Linked DNA regions of Homo sapiens: region 2 is linked to region 1. A link means that fine-mapping ties the variant in region 1 to the plasma level of a protein whose gene starts in the linked region. Region 1 holds a variant in brackets. A gene starts in the other region. All regions are shown on their reverse strands.

What was found. PIP is the posterior inclusion probability: the model's chance that the variant is causal. The UK Biobank Pharma Proteomics Project read protein levels with antibody pairs (Olink). The fine-mapping took linkage between variants from a reference panel, not from the people measured, so its PIPs are less certain.
Region 2: it holds the start of CTSS, and the variant in region 1 is fine-mapped to the plasma level of the CTSS protein (UK Biobank, PIP 0.91).

What each region holds. Positions count from the first base shown.
Region 1 is chr12:8,925,267-8,933,266 of GRCh38, reverse strand. It overlaps PHC1 (polyhomeotic homolog 1), which reads right to left. Exons shown (of 15, transcript NM_004426.3): 7 at 2,340-2,832; 8 at 1-704. Among named protein-coding and RNA genes, the nearest start is that of PHC1, 15 kb to the right of the region's middle. The variant T/C (reference allele first, on the strand shown) is at 3,282.
Region 2 is chr1:150,763,502-150,781,069 of GRCh38, reverse strand. CTSS (cathepsin S) reads left to right here and starts at 15,292. Exons shown (of 8, transcript NM_004079.5): 1 at 15,292-15,372; 2 at 16,306-16,432. The coding sequence starts at 16,307. It also overlaps the pseudogene LOC100132571. RefSeq lists enhancers at 1-196, 15,274-15,418, 15,277-15,421, 16,352-16,401, 17,113-17,202 and 1 more, cis regulatory regions at 4,743, 15,346, 15,349 and a silencer at 9,962-10,081.

The DNA of each region.
Region 1 (8,000 bases):
ATGTGCTGTCCCCTGCACAGGAGCAAGGGTCATCCCAGGGGCCAATGTGGGAGGGCACTCCTGCAGTGCACCAGGAGCCTGGGATGAAGGTGGCGAGGAGGCCAAATGGGCCTGACCAGACTGCACTGTACCTGGCATCCCCCGGGAAGTAGGTACAGCAGCTGCCAGCTGTGCCAACCCCAAAGCCTGTGCCTGGGCTGTACCTGGCTGTCGAGTGCCTACAACTTGCACAGGGATATGGGGTGGTGGTTGCTGGGCAGCTGACATCTTAGCGGCCCCTAACTGAGGCGGCTTGATAGGTGCTACAGGTGGTTTGGATTGGATGGGAATTGGTGGCTTAGGGGCTGCATCAGGTGGAAGAGACAAGGGTGAAGACTGAAGCATGGGCTGAACGACCAGGGTTTGGGCTTGCTGCTGGGACTGGGAAGGTGGGACCTGCTGAGTAGGTGGGACCTGTGGTGGCTGAGGGGCAGTGAGGGTGGTGGCTTGCGGCTGCTGCTGTTGCTGCTGTTGCTGTTGTTGCTGCTGCTGCTGCTGCGCCAACTGGAGGTGTGTAGCTGTGTGAAGGAGCTGGGACTGCCGGTGCTGGAACTGCTGCTGGTGGTGGATGGCAATCTGCTGCTGGATCACCACCTGTTTCTGCTGGAGGTGGATCTGTTGCTGTTGCTGAATCAGTGAATGGGGCTGGATCTGTGTGTAGGTGGCTATAGGAACAATCCCAGAATACAACAGAGAGAAAAAAGAGCAGAGAATAATAATCATTCTAAATTAAAAGTAAATTCATTTTTCCAAGGTATAACCTAGTTTTGGAATTATGCGGTGAAAAGAAATCTAGTCAGTATGAAACTTGGACATCACTTCGTCCATACTCTTCCCACTCAATCAGACATTACCAACTACTACTAGTCTTAAAGATCTCAGAGAAAGAACTCCCTTGCTCAGTCATTTCAGATCCTGAGTAATTTCTTGTGTCTCTTATCTTTGCCATACTTAAATATTGTATTCTTTTACTCTGTACTCAGCAAAGAAGAATGGTTAGCCCCTCCTCCATTAGACTTGGAGTTTCTCAAAGGCTGAATCCATGTTTTATTCATTTTCACATCCCTAAAACACAGCCCAGGGCCTGACACTGCAGAAGCACTTAATATTCACTGAAAGAAGAGATACCCACAGAGTTAAAGATGTCAACGTCTTCCCACAAATGACTTGGATTTTACAAATCATCAGCTTAGACCACCATCTGAGTCTTGAGAGTCAGCACCTGTCAGCTCTGACCTAACTCAGTTTCCTCCACTGTAAACTGGGAGTGACAAACTCTACTTCTCCATATTGTACCAGATTGTCCAGAGATCAAAGCATGTGATGATAAAGCAATTTAGAAATAGAACTGCTAGAGTATATAAATACCAAGTATAGTAATAACTAACTCTTAATTTTTTTGTGAGTAAATTATCTAAATACATCAACAACTAAGGTACTAGAAACAAAAAAAGGCAAAAATCAACATGACCAAATAAGATACACACATCTAACTACATCTTACCCGCAGTCTGAAAGCAAGTATAAACTATCAGAGTCTTGCCCTGTCACCCAGGCTGGAGTGCAGTGGTGTGATCCCAGCTCACTGCAACCTCTGCCAACCGGGTTCAAGCTACTCTCCTGCTTCAGCCTCCCGAGCAGCTGGGACTACAGGTGTAAACCACTACGCCCGGCTAATTTTTGTATTTTTAGTAGAGACGGGGTTTCACCATGATGGCCAGGCTAGTCTCAAACTCTGACCTCAAGTGATCCACCTGCCTTGGCCTTCCAAAGTGCTGGGATTACAGGACTGAGCCACCGCACCCCGCCTCTCCATTAGTCTTAAGTGCTCTAAGGCATTGTACTGTATCTGCTATACACTGGATCAAGTAACCACATTAAACAGTGAGGTGAGAATTCATCCCTTATAGTAAATGCTAAGTTACATGAAGACAGGGAATCTACTTTTCAAAAATGTATCCCCAGTAATTCCTAGAAAACAGTAAGCAATTCAGTAAGATGTGATGAATGAATAGACAGAGTGATAAAACTGAAGAACTCACAGCCTAAGAAAGCGGACAGGGGAACTTGTAAGCTGACTACTGCCTGGTAGAAACAGATAAAATCTGTATCTGTCACTTGTCCTCCTGACCCTGAACTAATATGTTCAAGGCTGATATTATTCCCATTCCTTCCACTATTCAAGGACCAACAGAAGCGGGGAAAAAACAAAAAGGCAAAGAAAAAAAGGCAAAAAAAGAAAAAAAGGAAAATTTCACATGAATTCTGAGAGAATAATGACATGAGGAATGACAATTTACCTGAGCTAATAAGTGTCTGGCTGGGCGCAGGTGTGGCTGTCCGTGTCAGGTTCATGCCCACATTCTGCTGGCCACTCCCATCTGCTTCTGCCTTCTTGGCTGCTGCACTTTCTGCCTCTGTCTGGCTGCCCTGGCTCACAGTCACTGTTTGGGCTGCAGGCAAGGGCTGCACCACTCCTGTACCCTTTCTGGGACAGCTCCCACCACCCATTCCTGAGGAAGGCAACTGACCCAAACCACCATGTGCCTGCCCACCTCCACCTGGACCCATGGACCCTGGGATGCTATTCCCACTGCCTCCACCAGCTTGACTAAGGTTGAGGGACTGGTTTGTGGCCCCAGAGGAAGCCTGTGCCACCGCTAGGGCCTGGCTAGAGGCCTGGGAGAGGCTAGAGACAGGGGAGGCTCCTGGAGGAATGGCCTTCTGAGTGGAGCCTTGCATCTGAGGTCCTTGAGCTGAGGCCTGTTGATTCCTTACTGCCAAGTTCTGAACCTGAAAGATACGAAAAAACAGATTGAGAAAAGGAGGACTGGAGGCATTAAGGTTAAAGATTCAAAAGCAGCCAGGACTGCTATTGTGTCGTATTCCACAGAATACCTCAGCTCGTATCTCTGCCTTTACCATATACTTTAAGGCCTTCCTACCTCCTAAGGAGGAACTCTGGCTCTGTATCTGATTCTTCAGCCATCTTCACTCACTAGCAAGTTTATCATCAAGTGTGGTCTTTTATTCCTTCAAAATATCTCTTCAATTATCCCTTTCCTCGCCATTCAATCATTCAGCACCTCCCAAAAACCTACTATGCTTCAGGTACTACACTGGATACTGGAAATGCAGAGGAAAGACACAGTCTCTGCTCTTAATGATTACTTTCTACTACAGAAGACAAGAAAATTATCACTTATGACATAATAAGATGTATAGATATGCACCCAGTACCA[T/C]AGGAGTACAGAGAAGGAATATCAACTAAGACTAGGGAGATCAAGGAAGGGCTTCCTAAAACAAGTGATACTGATGTGACACTCAGTAGGTAATGGTGAAGGTGGGGGTTTAAAGATATTGATAACAGCATTTGCAAGGCCAGAACCAAAAAAGGATTATTATTTAGGCTGGGCGCTATGACTCATGCCTGTAATCCCAACACTTTGGGAGGCCAAGACGGACAGACTGCTTGAGTTCAGGAGTTCGAGAACAGCCTGGGCAACACTGCCTCTACAAAAAAATACAGAAAATTAGCCAGGTATGGTGGCAAACACCTGTAGTCCCAGCTACTCAGGAGGCCAAGGTGAAAGGATCACTTGAGCCTGGGAGGCAGAGACTGCAGTGAGCTGAGATCACGCCACTGCACTCCAGCCTGGGTAACAGAGTGAGACCCTGTCCAGAAAAAAAAAAAAAGACATTATTTTAAAATATTATTAAAAAAAATGTATAATTTCTAAAAAGACTGTATTTTTAGAAATTATAAATATTTCATTATGTTTGGGGAGAGTTACAAGGAATGGAAAGAAATAAAGCAAGGAAGGCAGGCTGTGGATAAGGAGGTAGGAAGGTGCTGGGCCAGTAAGGGCCTGGTGTATTGAAACAAGGAATCTGAACTTTAGTTTGGGAACAGCAAGTTTATCTGTCTTATTCATTGTTATATTGCTAGCACCTTCACAGTTCCGGCACATAGTCAGTACTCCAAAATATGGATAAAGGGAAAGAATGATGTCTGCTTAACTGATTATAGGAAGCCAATAAAGCTTATTAATCAAAATAAACATTCACTTATACATTTATACATTTCTGATTGAAGTATAAATCAATACACTTCCTATTTTAGAAAATATTTGTTATCATATCCTAAAGTTGAACATTCACACACCCTCTAACCCAGGAATTCCACAAGACAAACTCTTGCCATGTACCACAGGAGGCATGTGTAGGAATGTTCATGGTGGCATTATTCATTAGCAACCACGACCTGGAATCAACTCAAAGGGCCATCTACAGAAGAGAAGATGAATAAACTATAGTATATTCATACAATGGAATAGTATATAGAAACTACAATTAATAAACTCCAATGACTGCAACAAAACAAATGGATCGTGACAATGTTATTAAGAAAGCACTCTCCAAAAGTGTACATACAGCACGAGTACCTTACACATTTCAATACAATTAAAATATATACATGGTGTCTGGGGTTTGCTTCAAAATATTCCACAGGCAGAGAAGGGCCTGAATGCATTGGTCATGTGTCGATAATTGTTGAAGCTGGATGGTAAGTACACAGGAATTCATACTTTTTCTGTTTTTGTGTACCTTTAAAATTTTCTATAATAAAAAGGGCATTTTAGAAACATAGAGAGATGCAATAAAACCATATAAAAAAGGACCCGAGGGAAGAATGGACTTAGAAATCAGAAGGCTCGTTACTGTGGGTAATGGAAGGCAGTAGACGGAACTGCACACTGCTTATTACATTATTAAAAATTACAGAGTAAATAAATTTTAACAGGTTATGACGAGACCAACAGTGAGAGAGTGTCATGATCCAAGGATTACAATTTTATCAAATTCTGTGTACCAGAAGTACGATTAAAAAATTAGTAGTAACAACATATATTTTCTTATTTAAAAAAACATAGTAAAAGTTTCCTGATAGTAATGTGGAAAAGAACTACAAGTAGGTTAAGACTGAAGTGAAGAAGACCATGTAGAAATCTAGTACAATAGGCCGGTGCAGTGGCTCACGCCTATAATCCTAGCACTTTGGGAGACCAAGGTGGGCAGACTGCCTGAGCTCAGGAGTTCCAGACCAGCAGGAGCAACATGGAGAAACCCCGTCTTCTACTAAAAATACAAAACATTAGCTGGGCATAGTGGCACGCGCCTGTAATCAAGCTACTCAGGAGGCTGAGGTACAAGAATCGCTTGAACCCAGAAGGCAGAAGTTGCAGTGAGCCGAGATCACACCACAGCACTCCAGCCTGAGCAACAGAGACTCTGTCTCAAAAAAAAAAAAAAAGAAAGAAAGAAAGAAAGAAAGAAAGAAAGAAAGAAAGAAAGAAAGAAAGAAAGAAAGAAAACTAGTACAGTACAGGTTAAAATAATAAAAACCTGAATTCAGGCAGGAGCAGTAAAGAGTTGATGGCTTTTGAGAGATATTGACAAGAATCATCAGGATTGGGTGCTAGAGCACATAATATTATCTGGCAATTATTAATATACAGTTTTTCCAATCAGCTTCATTTCCATAATGGCTATTTCAAACTTTCCCACTCTCTCCCTATACCTCAGACTACCTTCTCTTTCTCCTCCTACTCTTCACCTCTTCAGAGAAAACAAAAACCATTATATGAGCATTGCTTCATCAGTTCCACCACCGAATCTATACATTTATCTGCATACACACCCATCATTTCCCCCTTCTCTCCTCTTCCTATCAAAAGGCAATCAGTCCTTCTCTGCACTCTATATTCCACCTCCTCCTGCCATCTCAAGCAGCATATAATATCCACTGCCTCCTCTTCCACTTCTTCTCCACTGGCTCCCTCATCACCATGTAGGAACTGCACATTCCCCTCCCCAGTTCCACCTTCCTTTCCTGGTGCTGCTAAACTCTTAATAGCTGTTTACAGTCACTGTATTCATTCCCACCAGCCATTCACACCCCTCAAACTCATACTACTTTGGATTCACCACCCCCCAAACAACTGAAACAACTCTCCCTCCCTGTTAATAAAACCATCTTTCTTTCTCTCTCTACATTAGAAAGAGATGCCCCCTGCCCACGCATGCGCGCATGCACACATGCACATCTTGTAACATTTGGTTCCCTTGCCTTCGTGACACTACAGTCCAGATTTTCCTATCTGCTGCTCTTTCCCATTCGCCTCTGTCAGCCCACGACCCTCTGTCGACCTTGAACTGCTTTTCCAAAGTGGGGGTTCATCCTACCTCAGGGCCCCATATTAAACGTTCCTCTCCTCAACCTGTACTATCTCCCCAAACATTTTTTTTTTTAAGATGGAGTTTCGCCCTCGTTGCCCAGGCTGGAGTACAACGGCGCGATCTCGGCTCACTGCAACCTCCGCCTCCCAGGTTCAAGTGATTCTCCTGCCTCAGCCTCCCAAGTAACTGGGATTACAGGGATGTGCCACCACGCCCAGCTAATGTTTGTTATTTTTAGTAGAGACGGGGTTTCACCATGTTGATCAGGCTGGATGGTCTCGAACTCCTGACCTCGGGTGATCCACCCGCCTCAGCCTCCCAAAGTGCTGGGATTACAGGCATGAGCCACAGCGCTGGCCTTTTTTTTTAAGATGGAGTCTCCTCTGTTGACCAGGCTGGAGTGCAGTGGCACGATCTTGGCTCACTGCAACCTCCACCTCCCAGGTTCAAGTGATTCTCCTTCCTCAGCCTCCCAAGTTAACTGGGGCTATGGGCATGCACCACCACACCCGGCTAATTTTTTTTGTATGTTTAGTAGAGACAGAGTTTGACTACGCTGCCCAGGTTGGTCTCAAACTCCTGATCTCAGGTGATCCGCCCGCCTCGGCCTCCCAAAGTGCTGGGATTATAGGCATGAGCCACTGTGCCCGGCCTCTCCAGGCAATTTTAAAGACTGAGGAGAGTAAACTAATTTAGTAGATGGGGGACTTCAATTATCATCTATATGCCTACTACTCTCAAATGTTTATCTCCAACCCAGACCTCTCCTCTGAGCTCAAGAACCACATAATAAAACTGCAGTCTCAGTATCTCCTCATGGATGGCTCACAAACACTTCTAATTAGGTCTGCATGTCCAAAACTGAACGTCACTCTAAATACACTCCTACATTCTTCGTCTCATAAACAGCACCACCAGCCACCCCACAGATTTCCTATCTGGCATCTCCTTTAATTCCCCCATCTACTAAATTAGTTCACCCTCTTCAATGATTCTTCTAAGTTATCCTCAAATCTATGCATTTCTGTCCATCTCCATTGCTACCCCCAGTATGAACATCGTCTGTCCCTTAAACTGTTAGAACAGTTATTCTCCCTACAGTCACACTCACACCATATCCGTTTAGTCTCCAAAGAGGAAATCAACATGGTATTTAAAAAGCAAAACAAAACAAAAATACATCCAAATCTCTCTATGACACTTCCATATTTAAAATCCTTCTATAGCTTCCAATTGCTTTTTATAAAAAGCCCAAAATCCTAAACACAGCCCCCAAAGCCCTGAAAGATAAGGTTCCTCCTACCCGTCTAGCCCCACTATGCCAAACTCCAAGAATACAAGACTTTTAATTCCTCTAACAAATCAAGTTCCTGCCCTCCTCAGGACCTTTGGACACACTGTTCTCCTGCCTCCAACACTCTCCTTCCACATTCTTATCTGGCTAACTTCTACACACCCCAAGTTAAATGTCACCTCCTTGACTTTTACACCCCATGCCAAAGCTAAGTTAGGTCCCTTTCTAAATTCTCAGAACACTCGGTACTTTCTCAATTATTTCCCCATTCAGGTGACTATCAGTTTAATGTCTGGTGTTTCAATGGTCTGTGAGCTCCACAAATGCAGTGATCGTGACTTTCTTGGGCATCCAACGCTAAGGAATGTTTGATATATTAATAGCAGTAGTTTCTCCTAAACACTCACTACGTCCAGGCATTCTTCAA
Region 2 (17,568 bases), not on the chromosome of region 1:
CACAGCGAAACCCCGTCTCCACCAAAACCAGTCAGGCGTGGCGGCGCGTGCCTGCAATCGCAGGCACTCGGCAGGCTGAGGCAGGAGAATCAGGCAGGGAGGTTGCAGTGAGCCGAGATGGCAGCAGTACAGTCCAGCTTCGGCTCCGCATGAGAGGGAGACCGTGGAAAGAGAGGGAGACCGTGGGGAGAGGGAGGGGGAGGGGGAGGGAGAGGGAGAGACTGCATGTTTTCATAGACTAATATAATATACAAACTTAGGGAAGTCTCCTGTTAATGCTGTTAATTTTGCCTCACCTGACATTTTCTTCATAAATATTCAATGAAGCCACAAAGATGCTGTAACTTTTTGGAATCTGTCCAAGTTTAAAAGAAAAAATTATCAGCAGCAATTCTGTAAAACAGAAGTGTGTCAATTCCTTACTTTCTTTTGCTTTCGGTGTCAGTTGTTTGAAAAACACCAGAAGCTGACATGAGATTTTCTATATGTTGTCCAACAACTTGGTTTTCTGATTTTAGCTTCAGATTTTCTTCCTTACCTGTGTTTGCTCTTGCAGAGAGATCTTCAAGTATGAGTTGGAATTTCCACACTTGATTAATAAGTCGTGTTGTTTTCCTCTAGTTCCACCTGATTTTCAGCATCAACTGCATCCATGTCAGCACTCATCATCTTGGGTAACAAACTTTTGAGCCTTGGACACAAAATGCATGATGAATGTTCTTCCAGTTTGAGGGGCCAGAAGTGGGAGGGTTTGGGCGGATGCCTCAGACCTGGACACTTGGACCAACTGACAACGGTGCTCTCCAAAACTGAATTTTGAAGATGATACCAAAAATATCTCATTAATAATTTATTGATTATAAATAGAAAGGATAATGTTATGGATATTATCATTGAGTTAAATAAAATGTGTTTTTCTTTTTTCTTCTTTTTTTTTTCCTTTTGAGACAGAGTCTTGCTCTATCCCCCAGGCTGGAGTGCAGTGGTGCGATCTTGGCTTACTGCAACCTCCGCCTCCTGGATTCAAGCGATTCTTCTGCCTCAGCCTCCCAAGTAGCTGGGACAACAGGTGCGCACCACCGTGCCCAGCTAATTTATATATATATTTAATAGAGACGGGGTTTCACCATATTGGCCAGGCTGGTCTCGAACTCCTGACCTCGTGATCCGTGATCTGCCTGCCTTGGCCTCCCAAAGTGCTGGGATTACAGGCGTGAGCCACTGCGCCTGGCCTAAAATGTGGCTTAAAATTAATGTTATCTCGCTTTTTTGTTTTGTTTTCCTTTTTTTTTTTTCAGATGGAGTCTTGCTCTGTTGCCCAGGCTGGAGTGCAGTGGCGTGATCTCGGCTCACTGCAACCTCTGCCTCCTGGGTTCAAATGATTCTCATGCCTCACCTCCTGAGTAGCTGGGATTACAGGTGCCCACCACCATGCCCGGCTAATTTTTGTATTTTTAGTAAAGGCAGGGTTTCACCATTTTGTCCAGGCCGGTCTCAAACTCCTGACCTCAGGTGATCCGCCCGCCTCAGCCTCTCAAAGTGCTGGTATTACAGGCGTGAGCCACCGTGCCTGGCCCGTGTTTTACTTTTTAAATATGGCCACCAGAGAACTTAGATTTACTGTGTGCCTTACACTGCATTTCTGTTGGACGGCGCTGTTTCAGAGGTTGTGGAGGATGGTAAAATCATGAATCAGGGACTCAGGGACTTGCCCTTCCAGCATAGTGAACTACATAATTCAGTCCAGCCTTCCCACTGAGGGCAAATAGAAAAGCTGGAAAATACATCAAAAGTATCTACTTGAAGCCCTCAGAGACTTAACAAAGTAGCAAGGACTTACTGGGACAGATTGAAACCTTACATGGCATTGCGGTTTGAAGTGTAATGATGGAATATTTAAGTAACCAGAGAAAGGCTAGCATCTTCCTAGCCTCAGTAGAAAATTCCATCTGCATCTTTATTTTATTTTATTGTTTTCATACCTGCTTCTGGATACCATGTGTCTTTCTATTGAATACCTTCTTACTCTAGCTATCATAAATGTACAAAAATTAATTTGTAAGACCCCCATCACTCAAAGCAATAATAATTTATCACTTGCATTCAATAAAAAAAAATTCTGAGTATCTACTCTATAGAATTGCATGATTGCCTGCCATACCAACACCCTCAGGAATTACTTTCCCTTTCCTCTCTATTGAATTAAAGGTTGATATGAAAGAAGCCAATTATATTTTAGTGAAAGGCAACATAACATAGTGGTTAAGAGCATGAACTCTGGTGCCAGGCAGCCTGGATCCTGATTCTGCCTCTTCCATTTACTAGCAAGGTGATCTTGGGCTAGGGTTAGGGCTTTTGTAAAATAGAGAAAAGAATAATACCTACCTCGCAGGATTTTTGTGGTGATGAAATGAGTCAATATATGTAAAGTGCTTAGAGCAGTGCCTGGCCAGAGTCAGAATGTCTGCTACATGAGAGTTGGCTACCACTGTTGAATCAGTGGGAATGAAATTCAGGCTCATTCAATAGAAGCCCAGTCTCAGGAGCTGCTGGAACAAGTCTAATTGAGGTCAAGTCTATTATGTTTACAGCAGTATTTCTAGTACTGTTTTCCATTGTGTACACATAATTTTTCAGCTACATTATGGACTAAATCATATGAATTTTTATTGACATGTTTAAGAAACAAATAACCACTTTATAATACTTCTTAAGGAGAGTATATTTTTGTTTTTTTTTTTGTTTGTTTTTGAGACAGAATCTCTGTCGCCCAGGCCGGAGTGCAGTGGCGCCATCTCGGCTCACTGCAACCTCTGCCTCCCAGGTTCAAGTGATTCTCTTGCCTCAGCCTCCCGAGTAGCTGGGATTACAGGCATGCACCACCACACCCGGCTGATTTTTGTATTTTTAGTTTCACCATGTTGGCCAGACTGGTCTTGAACTCCTGACCTCAGGTGATCCACCCACCTCAGCCTCCCAAAGTGCTGGCATTACAGGCATGAGGCACTGCTCCCGGCCTCTATTTTTGGTTTTAAACAGCCTCTTTACATGTCTTTTAAAACACAACACTTTTGCAAGTTGGAAACTGCTTGTATGTATAGGACTTAAAATACACTGGTTAAAGAAGGCTATTACTGGCCTGCACTTGCACTTTACAAATAAAATGAAGCAACTGTCATTCATCTTTAGCCTTAGCACCACCTTAGGTATCTTCACTTCCTCTGCCTCTTCTGTTATTGCTGCCATTGGTAACAGGTGCCTCTACCAAAGGGCTGGGCTGACTTACCAGGTAGATGTAAGAAGGAGAAATGACTTAAAGGAAAGTTGTTCTGTGCTCACCTTTCCTGTTTTTAATGTTTGTGGCACTATGCCCACACTTCCACCACTTCCTTCCACAATGATCTTGCTTAAGCCTCCCTAAGTTCCAGTTTCCTCATCTATAGAAGAGGGACACCGCTGCTACCAACACCATCTCATTGGTACAGTTACAATTGATGTTTTCAATGTCCCCGACAATACAGTTAAATAGAAGCTTCAGAATCCTGCCTCATCATCGTACGTTCAAAAGCTTTCATTCTCATTGGTTCTGCAGATTCCTAGGGAAAATTAGTGAACCGTGAAAAGACTCTCCCGTTTCTAGCAAAGGCATTTCTAATATCTTGAATAAAGGCGCTACATAGTTCTCTTAAAAGTAGAGCAACTAATTTGATATTAGTTGTCCTTGAGATTAAGCCATGTTTAGGCATCCATCTTCTATAACTCCCAACTAGATTTTCTCAACCTAAGATAGGATTTGTGCATTTTTTTCTTTCATATCTTCTTAAATACTTCAAATATGTTAGCTGACTGACTAGCCAAGATGCCAAGTTGGGTAGCTTACACCTCTGGTTGCCAAACTTTGGTCACCAGATTCCTGCAAATCCTTCATTCTTTCATCGAATATTTACTGAGTGCTAGATACTGTTCTAGGTGCTTGAGATACATCTGAACAAACAAAAATCCCTGTTTTGTGGGATATTTGTCCTTGACAATATTTTCATTAGTCTTCAGTTAAATGATTAAAATATAGACAATGGAGTGAGACTTTTTTGTTCTGTTTTGTTGGTTTGAGACAGGGTCTCTCTCTCACTGTCACCCAGAGTGGAGTGCAGTGGTGCCATCATGGTTCACTGCAGCCTTGACCTCCAGTGCTCAGGTGATCCTCCCACCTCAGCCTCCCGAGTAGCTGGGATTACAGGCACACACTACCATGCCCAGCTAATTTTTTGTATTTTTATTAGAGACGAGGTTTCGCCATCTTGCCAAGGCTGGTCTTGAACTCCTGGCCTGAAGTGATCTGCCTGCCTCGACCTCCCAAAGTGCTGGGATTACAGGTATGAGCCACCACACCCAGCTGGAGTGAGTTTTTAACAAAACTAAATATAATCAACTTCTAAATTCTGAGATTATTTCCTTTTTATCCTTTTTTGGTGTTAAAATGCTCCTTCAATTTTGAAATGATGAGTGAAGATAATACATTTTAAATACCCTTATTTGATAAACTAAAAAAAAACCCTTAAGTTGGCCCTCTAATATTTTCTTCAAGTTTTACCATTCTGTAAAATCTGAAACTGAGAAACTATAGTAATTCAAGCCAGTATTGCGACTTCTTACAATGCCAAGTCTTGAACAAAATAAGAAAGTTCAAAGAAAAGGAACTTAAGCAGATGCCGTGCCTTCTGAGTCCAGCCCAGTTGCATGCTAGTAAGTGTTTAACAACTGGCTCTCCAGATTAAAACAATAAATAGGCTGGGCGCAGTGGCTCAGATCTGTAAACCTAGCACTTTGGGAGGCCGAGGCAGGCAGATCACTTGAACTCAGGAAGGTGGAGACCAGCCGGGCAAATGTGGTGAAAGCCCATCTCTACAAAAAAATACAAAAATTAGCCGGGCGCGGGCCGGGCGCAGTGGCTCACGCTTGTAATCCCAGCACTTTGGTAGGCTGAGGTGGCGGATTACCTGAGGTCAGGAGTTTGAGACCAGCCTGGCCATTATGGTGAAACCCTGTCTCTACTAAAAATACAAAAAATTAGCCAGGTGTGGTGTCGCATGCCTGTAATCCCAGCTACTCAGGAGGCTGAGGCAGGAGAATTGATTGAACCCTGGGGATGGAGGTTGCAGTGAGCTGAGATCGCGCCACTGCACTCCAGCCTGGGTGACAGAGTAAGACTCTGTCTCAAAAAAAAAAAAAAAAAAAAAAAAAAAAAAATTAGCCAGGCATGGTGGTGGGCGGCTGAAGCAGGAGAATCACTTGAACTTGGAAGGTGGAGGCTGCAGTGAGCTAAGATCACGCCACTGCACTTCAGCCTGGGTGATAGACTAAGACTCTGTCTCAAAAAAATAAATAAAATAAAATAAAATAAAATAAAATAAGGGAGACCTGATTTGTAGAGTTTGCTTATTTTAAGCTACCAATGCAATGCTACTAAAGATGGAGTGAGGATGAAGTGGGTATAAGCAGCTTTCGTGAACGAGTGTCAATACAAGCCAGCTCTGAGACACCGCTGCTCCAGCCTGGTATGAAATACAATATCTAGCCCAGGCATCAAGGATGTTGGTGTGGACTTCAAGTTTCAGTTCCACCACTTATTTCCACAATGGTTTTAGACAAGGCTTTCTAAGTCCCAGTTTCCTAAACTATAGAATAGGGATACTATTGCTACCACTACCACCTCATATGTTGTTGGGAGGATCAAATAAAATAATGGGCAGGAAAGATCTTCAGTGCCCTGTACAATGCCTGGCACAGAAGATGCATAATATCTGTATTTAATTCATTAAAACATATCGATTTGGGTATTTCCTCTTTTCCATATTTGCTAGAAACTTCCTATTTTGAAAAAGAATAACAGAGTTTGAGAGTTCAAAGATAAAATGCACAATTTAATATCATTTATTGAAAGCACAATTTTGCTGCAAGTGCTTTTCTAAAAAGAGTACTGCCAGAGTAGCTCAACAGTCTTTATTTAGTCCAAAAGATGGCCAAGCGCGGTGGCTCACGCCTGTAATCCCAGCACTTTGGGAGGCCAAGGCGAGTGGATTAACTGAGGTCAGGAGTTCGAGACCAGCCTGATGAACATGGAGAACTCCCCCCCCCATCTCTACTTAAAATACAAAATTAACTGGGTGTGGTGATGAACGCCTGTAGTCTCAGCTACTTGGGAGGCTAAGGCAGAAGAATCACTTGAACCCAGGAGATGTAGGTTGCAGTGAGCCAAGATTGCACCACTGCACTCCAGCCTGGGCGACAGAGCCAGACTCCATCTCAAACAAAAAAAAAGGGCGGGAAATAGAGAACATCAAAACATCTCTGATGTTCTTCCCTTTGCTTCTTGAGGTGGCAGCTTAGACCACTGATTCTTAGCCATTCTTCTTTTCTTTTTCTTTTTTTTTTTTGAGACGGAGTCTCGCTCGCGCCCAGGCTGGAGTGCAGTGGTGCGATCCCGGCTCACTGCAAGCTCCGCCTCCCAGGCTCACGCCATTCTCCTGCCTCAGCCTCCCGAGTAGCTGGGACTACAGGCACCCGCTACCATGCCCGGCTAATTTTTTTGTATTTTTAGTAGAGACGGGGTTTCACCATGTTAGCCAGGATGGTCTTAATCTCCTGACCTCGTGATCCGCTCACCTCAGCCTCCCAAAGTGCTAGGATTACAGGCGTGAGCCACCGCGCCGGCCTCTTCTTTTCTAATATATGCATTAAAAAGTTATAAATTTCTTTCTAAGCACTGGTTTAGCTGGATCTCACACATTTTTATATGTCATTTTTAAAAATTATTGCTCAGTTCAAAATATTTTCTAATTGCCATTATGATTTCTTCTTCTTAATAACCATGGTTATTAAGAAGTATATCACTTAAATGGGAGGTTTTCTAATTACATTTTTGTTATTGGGCCTAGCTTAATCTCACTGTGGTCAGAGAACATACTCTAAATGACTTGAATATTTTATGGCCCAGCACATACAGAGTCAATTTTGTTAAATATTCTATGTGCCCTTCAAAATAAATATTCTGAGGCCAGTGCAGTGGCTTGGGGCTGGGGTCCCAGCTACATGGGAGGCTGAGCTGGGAGGATCACTTGGGCCCAGCAGTTCAAAGCTGCCGTGAGCCGTGATCCTGCCTCTGCTCTCCAGCCTGGGTGAAAAAAAAAGAAAAAAAAAAAAAAAGGATTCTGTTGTTGAGGACAGGCTCTAGATATCTTAATTAGGACAAGTTCATTAATCGCATTATTCGAATCTTCTATATCGCTATTAATTTATTCCATTTGCTTATTCTACAAGCTATTGAAAGAGGTATCTCAAAGCCTCCCATTATGATTGCAGATTTTATCTATTTTTCCTTTTAGCTCTGGCAATCTTTGCTTTATGGGACTCTGAGGCCATGTTTTGAGGAGCATACAGATTTAAGATTATAATCTCTTCCTGGCGGGTCCCTTTATCATTTATTTCTTTATCATTATGAAAGTTCCCTCTTTAGCCTCATAATGCTTCTTGCTTTAAAGTCTACTCTGACTGATATTTGAATAATTATACCCACATTTTGCTGTTGCTTGCGTTTGTGTGATCTAGCTTTTAGCTTCCTATTATTGTCAACCTTTCTGTGTTTTTGTATTAAAGATGTTTTTCTTGGCCAGGCATGGTGGCTCATGCCTGTAATCCCAGCACTTTAGGAGGCTGAGGTGGGTGGATCACCCGAGGTCAGGAGTTTGAGACCAGCCTGGCCAACATGGCGAAACCCCGTCTCTACTAAAAATACAAAAACTAGCCAGGCATGGTGGCATGCCTGTAATCCCAGCTACTCAGGAAGCTGAGAATCACTTGAACCCAGGAGGAAGAGTTTGCTGTGAGCCAAGATCATGCCACTGCACTCCAGCCTAGGCGACAGAGCAAGGCTCTGTCTCAAAAAAAAAAAATAAATAAATAAAAATAAAAAATGCCAGGAGCGCGGCTGGGCGCGGTGGCTCACGCCTGTAATCCCAGCACTTTGGGAGGCCGAGGCGGGCGGATCACGAGGTCAGGAGATCGAGACCATCCTGGCTAACATGGTGAAACCCTGTCTCTACTAAAAATACAAAAAATTAGCCAGGCGTGTGGCAGGCGCCTGTAGTCCCAGCTACTTGGGAGGCTGAGGCAGGAGAATGGCATGAACCCAGGAGGCAGAGCTTGCAGTGATCTGAGATCACGCCACTGCACTCCAGCCTGGGTGACAGAGCGAGACTCTGTCTCAAAAAAAAAAAAAAAAAAAAAAAATGCCAGGAGCATTAGTATTTCAAATGAATATCCTAAATGGTAGCACTTGCTCATAACCATCTATCTTAATCCTGAGTACTTTATTAGAAACTTGTTCTGCAAAAGGAACGGACTCAGGAATAATTAGTTGGAACTGTAAAATCTTACCATCTCATGGAGCGATATTATAATTACATTCTATTGCTGGTGTCTTCCACTGTTTAGTTGCCACTAAGTCAGCATTTCCGTACTTATGCATAGGGAAAGTGAGCCATGGGCATGTTAAATCACTTGTTCCAGGCCTTATAACCAATAGATGGCAGAACCAAGACATATGCAAAAGCTTTTAAGCTTTTTACTCAGCCCACGTCCTGACAACAGAAAATACAATAGCAGTTAATATGTCACTTGTTCTTTTTCTCACAAAAGGTAATTCATCTCTATTCTCCCTGCCTTCCATAAGTAAAATTTTGGTTTCTTCTACGACCTACATATTAACCAGGGGTCATGTATATCAGACAAATAAACACAGTCTCTGCTTACTTACTGAGTCCAAAGGCAGGCTGGGAAGAAGTGAGTATGTCCCTGAGAGCCCTGTTTCATTTTGGGATCAACTCAATTTAGTTTCTTGGTAAATCTGGAATTAATTTATGGATTTAGAAATAAACAAAGGAAGACATTTAGATGGCCGCTGCCGTCCTGAATCCGGTTTAGAGTACCACTAGAAAACACAATTAACCCCAAAATTTTTTCCCACTTGGTAGAGGATTACCGGAAACAGGTAGAGACATAATTTCATACACAATTCCATGTAGGCAATACCCAGGAATGGAGACAGAAGGTGTGCTGTTGCCTAATCACCACGTTTATGCTCTGTACTGAGTGTAGATTTATAGACCTCGTCAGACAGAGAAACAATGACTGGAAAAATACATGGTCCCTTGTAAAAGCAGTTGTCTACCATTTAATCTTGATGGAAAGAAATTTGTTCCTATGCTAATTTCTCATTAAGGAAATTGAACTGTCTATTTCTATGGATAGAAATACATATAGAGGTATCAAGGCTAAAAGCAAAAAACATCAGGTATGAGATCAGATGTGTAAAGAAGGATAGAGAAGGCAACCTGAAATTATTGAGAGCTCCACAATAGCTTTCTTCTTGAGTTTCCTGTATTCGCAGCCTGAGAAAAGCACCTTCCCCATTCTAGCTTCTGACACTCCACCCTTGTTTTTCCAAACTCAACACGGCTGTGGATGTCAATACTAGGTTCATCTATCCGGGTACTACAGTTTATTTAAAATGTGCAGGAAGCAGCCAGGCGCAGTGGCTTGCGCCTGTAATCTCAGCACTTTGGGAGGCCAAGGCGGGCGGATCATCTGAGGTCAGGGGTTTGAAACCAGCCTGGCCAACGTGGCGAAACCCTGTCTCTACTAAAAATACAAAATTAGCCTGGCGTGGTGGCGCATGCCTGTAATCCCAGCTACTTGGGAGGCTGAGGCAGGAGAATCGCTTGAACCCGGGAGGCGGAGGTTGCAGTGAGCCGAGATCATGCCATTGCACTCCATCCTGGACAACAAGAGTGAAACTCCATCTCAAAAAAAAAAAAAAAAAGTGCCGGAAACTCAAAGAACCTATGAAAGGCCAGAAAGTCGGTGAGGTTTGTTTATTGTGTAACCACAAACATCACCAAAACCACAGAGAGGACTGCTCAACCTATGATGCCACTGAGCAGACACAATATTTGACATAAACACTACAGTTTGAACAGGTGACACTGGGGACCAGATATTAGAATATCTGCTGCTGCTCCTGCTCCTGCTGGTGCTGCTGCTGCTGGGAGACATCTCTACTGCCATTCTCACCAAAAGGAGGATTTTACATACTTCTGGTTCCTCACTTACCCACTTGCAAAATGATGTTCTATACAGGTGTGCCTGACTGGCAAAGGCTAGGTCTCATGTCTGTGCCTTAACTGCACTGGATCCTTGAAAATGGAGCTTTGGCTTCAACTTGGAGAAGCAAAATTTATAACGTGGGAAATTCTCCAAACATGGGAATATTGTTCAAAAGATGCTAGGTGGCCATAAAAATAAATGAACACTGTATATACTACTGTGGAGTTATCAGAATTTAATTGCTAAAGTATAGTTTCTAAAAAGCTGAGAGCAAATATACAACGAACGCATCGAAGTTTAACTCATTAATTAATAAGGGATCAGTAAGATTAAAGTCAGTTCAAATAAGAATTTGAGGCCGGGCATGGTGGCTCATGCCTGTAATCCCAGCACTCTGGGAAGCCGAGGTGGGTGGATCACCTGAGGTCAGGAGTTCGAGACCGGCCTGGCCAACACGGTGAAACCCTGTATCTACTAAAAATGCAAAAATTAGCTGGGTGTGGTGGTGTGCATTTGTAATCTCAGCTACTGGGGAGGCTGAGGCAGGAGAATCGCTTAAATCCGGGAGGCGGAGGTTAGAGTGAGCTGAGATCGCACCACTGCACTCCAGCGTGGGCGATGAAGTAAGGCCGTGTCTCAAAAAAAAAAAAAAAAGAATTCGACTGACAGAGATCTACATTCTCTATTTCTCTATTCAGTGAAATCTACAATACAAAATTTATTTGCATTGCCATGTATAGGGATCATTTGCATAGTTATCAGTTTTTTACAACTTAACTCTAAAAAGAATCAAACAATTCCTGTAAAGGTCCACTAAATAATACCCAGCACATCACTGAAAGGACACCTGCTAATGTCTTTCGCCTGAATAATTTTTCTTAATAAAATGTTAAGTGATTGACTAAAACAAAAAAAATGCTAAGTGAAAAAAACAAGATAGAGAAAAATATGTGTAATATGTTAGTGTTCACTTAAGATGAAAGAATATTAATATATAGGCATATTTGCATATTTCTAAAAATAGGAAGATAAACCATAAATTTTTTAAATGATTACCAATTAAGGAAAAAAGGAAATCGTGTAAAACAGACAAAAGTAGAGGCTAGAGTTCTTTGAATATACCTCATTGTGATGATTTCACTTTGGATCCACATAAATGTTTTACATAATTATAAAATGAAATTACATAAGTGTAAAAAGCAAGCCCTAAAAGGAAGAAGTGAAATGAAACAAATAAACCTGTGTATGGAGGTGGAGCATAACCATACAGGGAACTATTCCAGGTGACTTCAAAACACAGTAATTGACTTACATCGTTAGCGACATTTGGCTTAATGGAGAAAAACCTGTCCCCCTCCACTTTAAAACCTCTAATTTGTTTTCATTAACAATCTTATTGGCGTAGGCTTGTTGTTGTTATTCTGCAATTTTACAGGATAAATTAAACAAGTACTTGAGTTGATATTTTAGAGAACCCAGATTTTTTAAGCATGTTTGAAAAGAAGTGCAGATATAAGATTGATGGGGTGAGTAAACCCTATAGTCTTGAATTTGAATTTGAAGTATCAGTGTCAGCTTGTGATTTATTTAATTTTTTTAAAAAAGATATTTCTTAGCTCTAGCTACTGAAAAGGCTTAGCAACAATGGTCAATCTGCTATCCCAAACACTGCTAGTTCCTAGATTATGGTATTTAAACATTGTTTCCACTAAAAGGAACCAGAGCTCCTTGGAGAAATGGCTGATTCCAGGTCTGGGGCAGGAATTGTTCAAGACAAACCTGCAATAGCCTGTCATATTAGAAAGAAAGGAAGCTTTTAAAGAGTACTAATATTATGCCAAATATACAAACTCTGTCTGCACCAAAGAGCCAGTTTGAATAAATTCCTACAGACCAAAAATGAGACAATATGAGTATCAATAAGGATAAAACTGGAATGGATTGAAACACATCAAATATGTTTAAATCCATGAATTCATAATGATATAAACATAACTCAATGGTTTCACAATATATGGAGCTTATTTAAATCTCAATTCAAACAAACTATTAAAAAATGTATAAGACAGTCCAGAAAATGTGAACATTGATAGGATGTCTGATGACATTAAGAAATTATTGTCTTAATTTCTTATGACAATAAAGTGGCTCACACCTGTAAACCCAGTACTTAGGGAGGCTGAGGTGGGCAGATTACCTATGGTCAGGAGTTCGAGACAAGCCTGGCCAATGTGGTGAAACCCCATCTCTACTAAAAATACAAAAATTAGCTGGGTGTGATGGCACATGCCTGTAATCCCAGCCACTTGGGAGGCTGAGGCAGGAGAATCGCTTGAACTCGGCAGGCAGAGATTGCAGTGAGCTGGGATCACACCACTGCACTCCAGCCTGGGCAAGTGAGTGAGACTCTGTCTCAGAAAAAAAAAAAAAAGAAAATTATTGTTCATTTATTTTAGATGTGATGATGGTATTGTGGTATTATATTTGTTTAATAGTCTCTGTCTTTTAAAGACACACACAGGGACATTTACGTATGAAATGACAGAATGTCTAGAATTTATTTAATATAATTCAGGTAGTGAGAGTGGGAATATAAATAAAATAAGATTGGCCATGTACTGATCATTGTTGAAACAAGACAATGGTTTCACGGCAGCTCATTTTACTACTATTTTTACTTTTACATGTGTTTTAAATTTTCCATAAGCAGTATCTTTTTAAAAAAAACTGTATGGCTACAAACACAAACATGTCTACTACAGCTGAGATGAATCAACATTATAATGATGTTACTTCTCCCTAAATTTATGCATATATTCAAATAAAAACTCTAATAGCCAGATGTGGGGGCTCATGCCTGTAATCCCAGCACTTCAGGAGGCCAAGGTGGGCAGATTGCTTGAGCCCAGGAGTTTGAGGCCAGCCTGGGCAACATGGTGAAACCCCTTATCTACAAAAAACAAAAAACAAAATCAGCCAGGCATGGTGGTGTGCACCTGTAGTCCCAGCCACTCCAGAGGCTGAGGCGGGAGGATCACTTGAGCCCAGGAGGTCAAGGCTGCAGTGAGCCATGATTGCATCACTGCACTCCAGCCTGGGTGACAGAATGAAACCCTGTCTCCAAAAGAAAAAAGCAAAAAACTCCAACAGAGTTTTTCAGGGAACTTGATAAACTGATTCAAAAAATTCATATAAAGAAGAGTTAACAAGTACAAAATACAAAGACAATGTTTAAAAAGAAGAACAAAGATAGGGTGGCCTAGATGACTTGCCTTACCATACGTGGAGACATATTACAAAGCTGTTTTAATTAAAACTGTGTGATACTGAAGTAGCAAAAGATAAAAAGAACAGCTTCATGAGCTCAGAAACTGACCTATCTATGTATGAGAATTTGGTGTACAATAGAGGTAGAATCAAAATTGGAAAACAAAGAAAATAAGCTCCCTACGTCATACCATACACAAAACTAAATTCCAGGTGAATTAAACACCTAAAAGCAGTAGCCATAGAAAAGATAAATAAAACACTCTCTGAAAGTATAAAAATAAGATGAGTGTATCTTTATTACATTTGGATGAGGAAAATTTTCTTATACAAAAACAGTATAGATTGATTATACGGAAAAGCTGAATAAAATGTTCTACCTCAACATAAAAAAATTTCATATAGAAAAACTCACTATAAACAAGACTAAAGGACAAGTGGAATTTCATAGGCTTATGCAAAGGAAGAAAAAATAAAATAAAAGACAAGTGGAAGACTAAGGGAGGATGTTTTTAAGGGTATATAACTGTCAAAGATTAGAAGCCAGAATATATTTTTAAAACACATACACCTTGGCCGGGCACGGTGGCTCACACCTGTAATCCCAGCACTTTGGGAGGCTGAGGCGGGTGGATCACGAGGTGAAGAGTTCAAGACCAGCCTGGCCAAGATGGTGAAACCCTGTCTCTACTAAAAATACAAAAATTAGCTGGACATGCTGGCAGGTGCCTGTAATCCCAGCTACTTGGGAGTCTGAGGCAGAGAATCGCTTGAACCTGGGAGGTGGATGTTGCAGTGAGCCAAGATCGCACCAATGCACTCCAGCATGGGAGACAAAGCACGACTCCGTCTCGGAAAACACACAACACACACACACACACACACCTCCCACAAATCACTAAGAAAATGCAACAATACAATAGAAAAATGAGCAAAAAAGATGAACAGGAAATTCACAGAAAATTCAAACGGTCAATAAATGTGTGAAAAGATCCTCAACCTCATTAGTAATTAGGAAAATGCAAATTTAAAAGATGATAGTTCGTCTTGCTCCCACCCCACCCAGGTAATCATTCTCAATTGGATATATTTGAGTGTATCCTTTTTTCCATGAATATACTAACACATACACACACACACACACACACACACGCATATTACTAAACTATACATATAGTATATATTAATAAAGACATTTTGAGTTTGATGAACGAAGGAATGGCTGAGTGAGAACCAGACAATATCAGATCATGAATGAGTTGTGTTAAAAGCAGTAAGACAGGTTTTCCTAGGAAATCATACAAGGAGCTGGGATTTGGGGAGCTTTATCTAAATCTCTTTATAACTAAATGTTTTCCATGTAAAAGTTGGTGTTTTTAAAATTCAATTTAATTTTTTTTTTGAGATAGGGTCTTGATATGTCATCCAGGCTGAAACACAGTGGCATAATCATGGCTCACTGCAGCCTTGTCCTCCTAGACTCAAGCAATTCTCCCACCTCACCCTCCCCCTCAGCTGGGACTACAAGCATGCACCACCATGCCCAGCTAATTAAAAAAAATTTTTTTGCAGAGACAGGGTCTCACTATATTGCCTAGGCTGGTCTTGAACTCCTGGCCTCAAGTGATCCTCCCGCCTCAGCCTCCCAAAGTGCTGGGATTATAGGCATGAGCCACTGGGCTCAGACAAGGGCTCTTCTTGATGGCTTACTGTATCCACTTTGTCCCCAAGACCATAGGGAAATGACTAGAGGTGACTGTACTAGCTAGATTTTAAATGAAACTGAAATGAAAGTTCACTTCCTCATTTTGAGTACCTCATGTGACAAGTTCCAATTTCTTTTCAAGTCAATTGAACTGAAATCTCCTTGTTGCTTTGAAATCTTAGAAGAGAGCCCACTAATTCAAGGACTCTTACTGTGGGAGCAACTGCTGGTTCTATCACGTATGTACTCTTTGTTCTTTTTCTCCCATTTGGTCTTCAAACACTCTGTGTTTGTAACTTGTTCTGCCTGCTAGGTTTTAAATCTTTGGTTTCAGGAAGTAAACTAAAAAATCGTGTCGTTCAATTTGCCTCTTCTCTATTTTTAAAAAGTTAATGTCTGCTTGAGCATCTAAGCATCTAAGTTGAGACTGAAACATGGCTTTCTTTGGAATATAATTTAAAGGCTTACATGTTTAAAATTCCAGATGTTTTCAATTAAAAAGAAATGGAAAAGAAAGTAGAATCCAGTTTGAGGGAGCTAGTCGCTGAATTTCTGTTGATGTCTCTTGAATTAAATACAGAAGTGGCATTTTAAAGAGTAGTTAATTGCCTCATTTGAAACAGATGTCTGATCATTAAAAAAAAAAAAACGTAAAAAGGAAAATTACCTACCTAAAGATGTGAAAGCAATAGATGAGAATTGTCTTTTAACTATCTGTAAAGACTGTGGATATTTAAACAGGTCAGTTAAGAAGAGCCCATGTATTCAAAAATTCAGGAGATAAACTGATTTTTCAGAGGTTTGTCTCTCTTAAGGATGATTTTTTTTTTTTTTTGAGAGAGAGAGAAAGAGATTTCCTTTGATTAGATTTGTTGGCAAATCCTGGAAAGTCCCTGTTTTCTAACCCTCTAGATGTGTTTGGTTTACCAGATATTGGGAAATTCCTGGAAATCACTTTTTAAAGTGCTACTAAGCATTGGAAGTAGTATTTCTGACATAAATCTGCAGCTGTTCCCTGTGACTATATATCCCAGGAATTTTCCTGTATAATTCTGTTTATAATAGTCTGTCCCTTTGATAGACTTTGCATTGTTATTTTCTCTTATGAAAACATGTGGTCACAACATATGCAGCTAATAGCAACACTTCCTATGTTACCTTTCCTTACACAGAATGAAACGGCTGGTTTGTGTGCTCTTGGTGTGCTCCTCTGCAGTGGCACAGTTGCATAAAGATCCTACCCTGGATCACCACTGGCATCTCTGGAAGAAAACCTATGGCAAACAATACAAGGAAAAGGTAGATTGGATTGCCACTCGAGCGATATGCTTTTAAAGGAGTACTGTTTTCTACCTCTTAAAATTGTGTTCTTACAGGCAGTGTTTTCAGTAAATATTTAAGCTGGGTGTGGTGGCTCGCGCCTGTAATCCTAGCCCTTTGGAAGGCCAAGGTGAGCGGATCACCTGAGGTCAGGAGTTCGAGACCAGCCTAGCCAACATGGCGAAACCCCATCTCTACTAAAAATACAAAAATTAGCTGGATGTGGTGGTGGGCGCCTGTAATCCCAGCTACTCGGGAGGCTGAGGCAAGAGAATCACTTGAGCCGGGAAGGCGGAGGTTGCAGTGAGCCAAGATTGTGCCATTGCATTCCAGCCTGGGTGACAGAGTGAGACTCCATCTCAAAAATAAATAAATAAATATTATGTACTTGTTTCTTGCCAGATACTGTTCTTGGTACCATACAGCAGGAATCAAAACAAAATTCCTGTTATGGAGCTTATATTATAGTGAGAGAGACAGGAAATAAGAAAATAAACAAGCAGATATGTAGTATGCTAGATGGTGATAAGTGTTGTAGATAAAAATAACAGAAGGCATGGAGAGTAGGAAGGGCCCTGGGTGGTGGTGGTGGTAAGAAGTCTATCTATATGACAGGAGGGTTAGGGAAGGCCTCACGGATAAGGGTGCCATTTGAGCAGAGAATTGATGGAAGCCAGGGAGCAAGCAAAATACATAATAGAGTGAAGGTCTCAGGCCAAGGGCAAATCAGCACAAGCTCCTGAGGAAGGGCCACATTTGGGATGGCTGAGGAGCGAAAAGGCGTTAATACCCACATAGTGTGGCCAGATATTGTTTCTTGACTATCACTTCCCATTTTGTACTTTTGTTTTTATTTCAAAGCACACTTGCTGATGTTAAGACCTTAACCCTACTGCTTTAAATAACTAAGTCCTGTAACTATGTAATATTTCTGTTTGTAAGCTAGCATCATATATTTATTTATTTGACATATTATTTTGTATAAAAATGACACTCTTAGGTCATACACTCTAAGTTTTATTTTTATTTATTTATAATTAAATAATAATTGTGTCTATTTATGGAGTACAATGTGATGTTATGATACAAATATACATTGCAGAATGATTAAATTA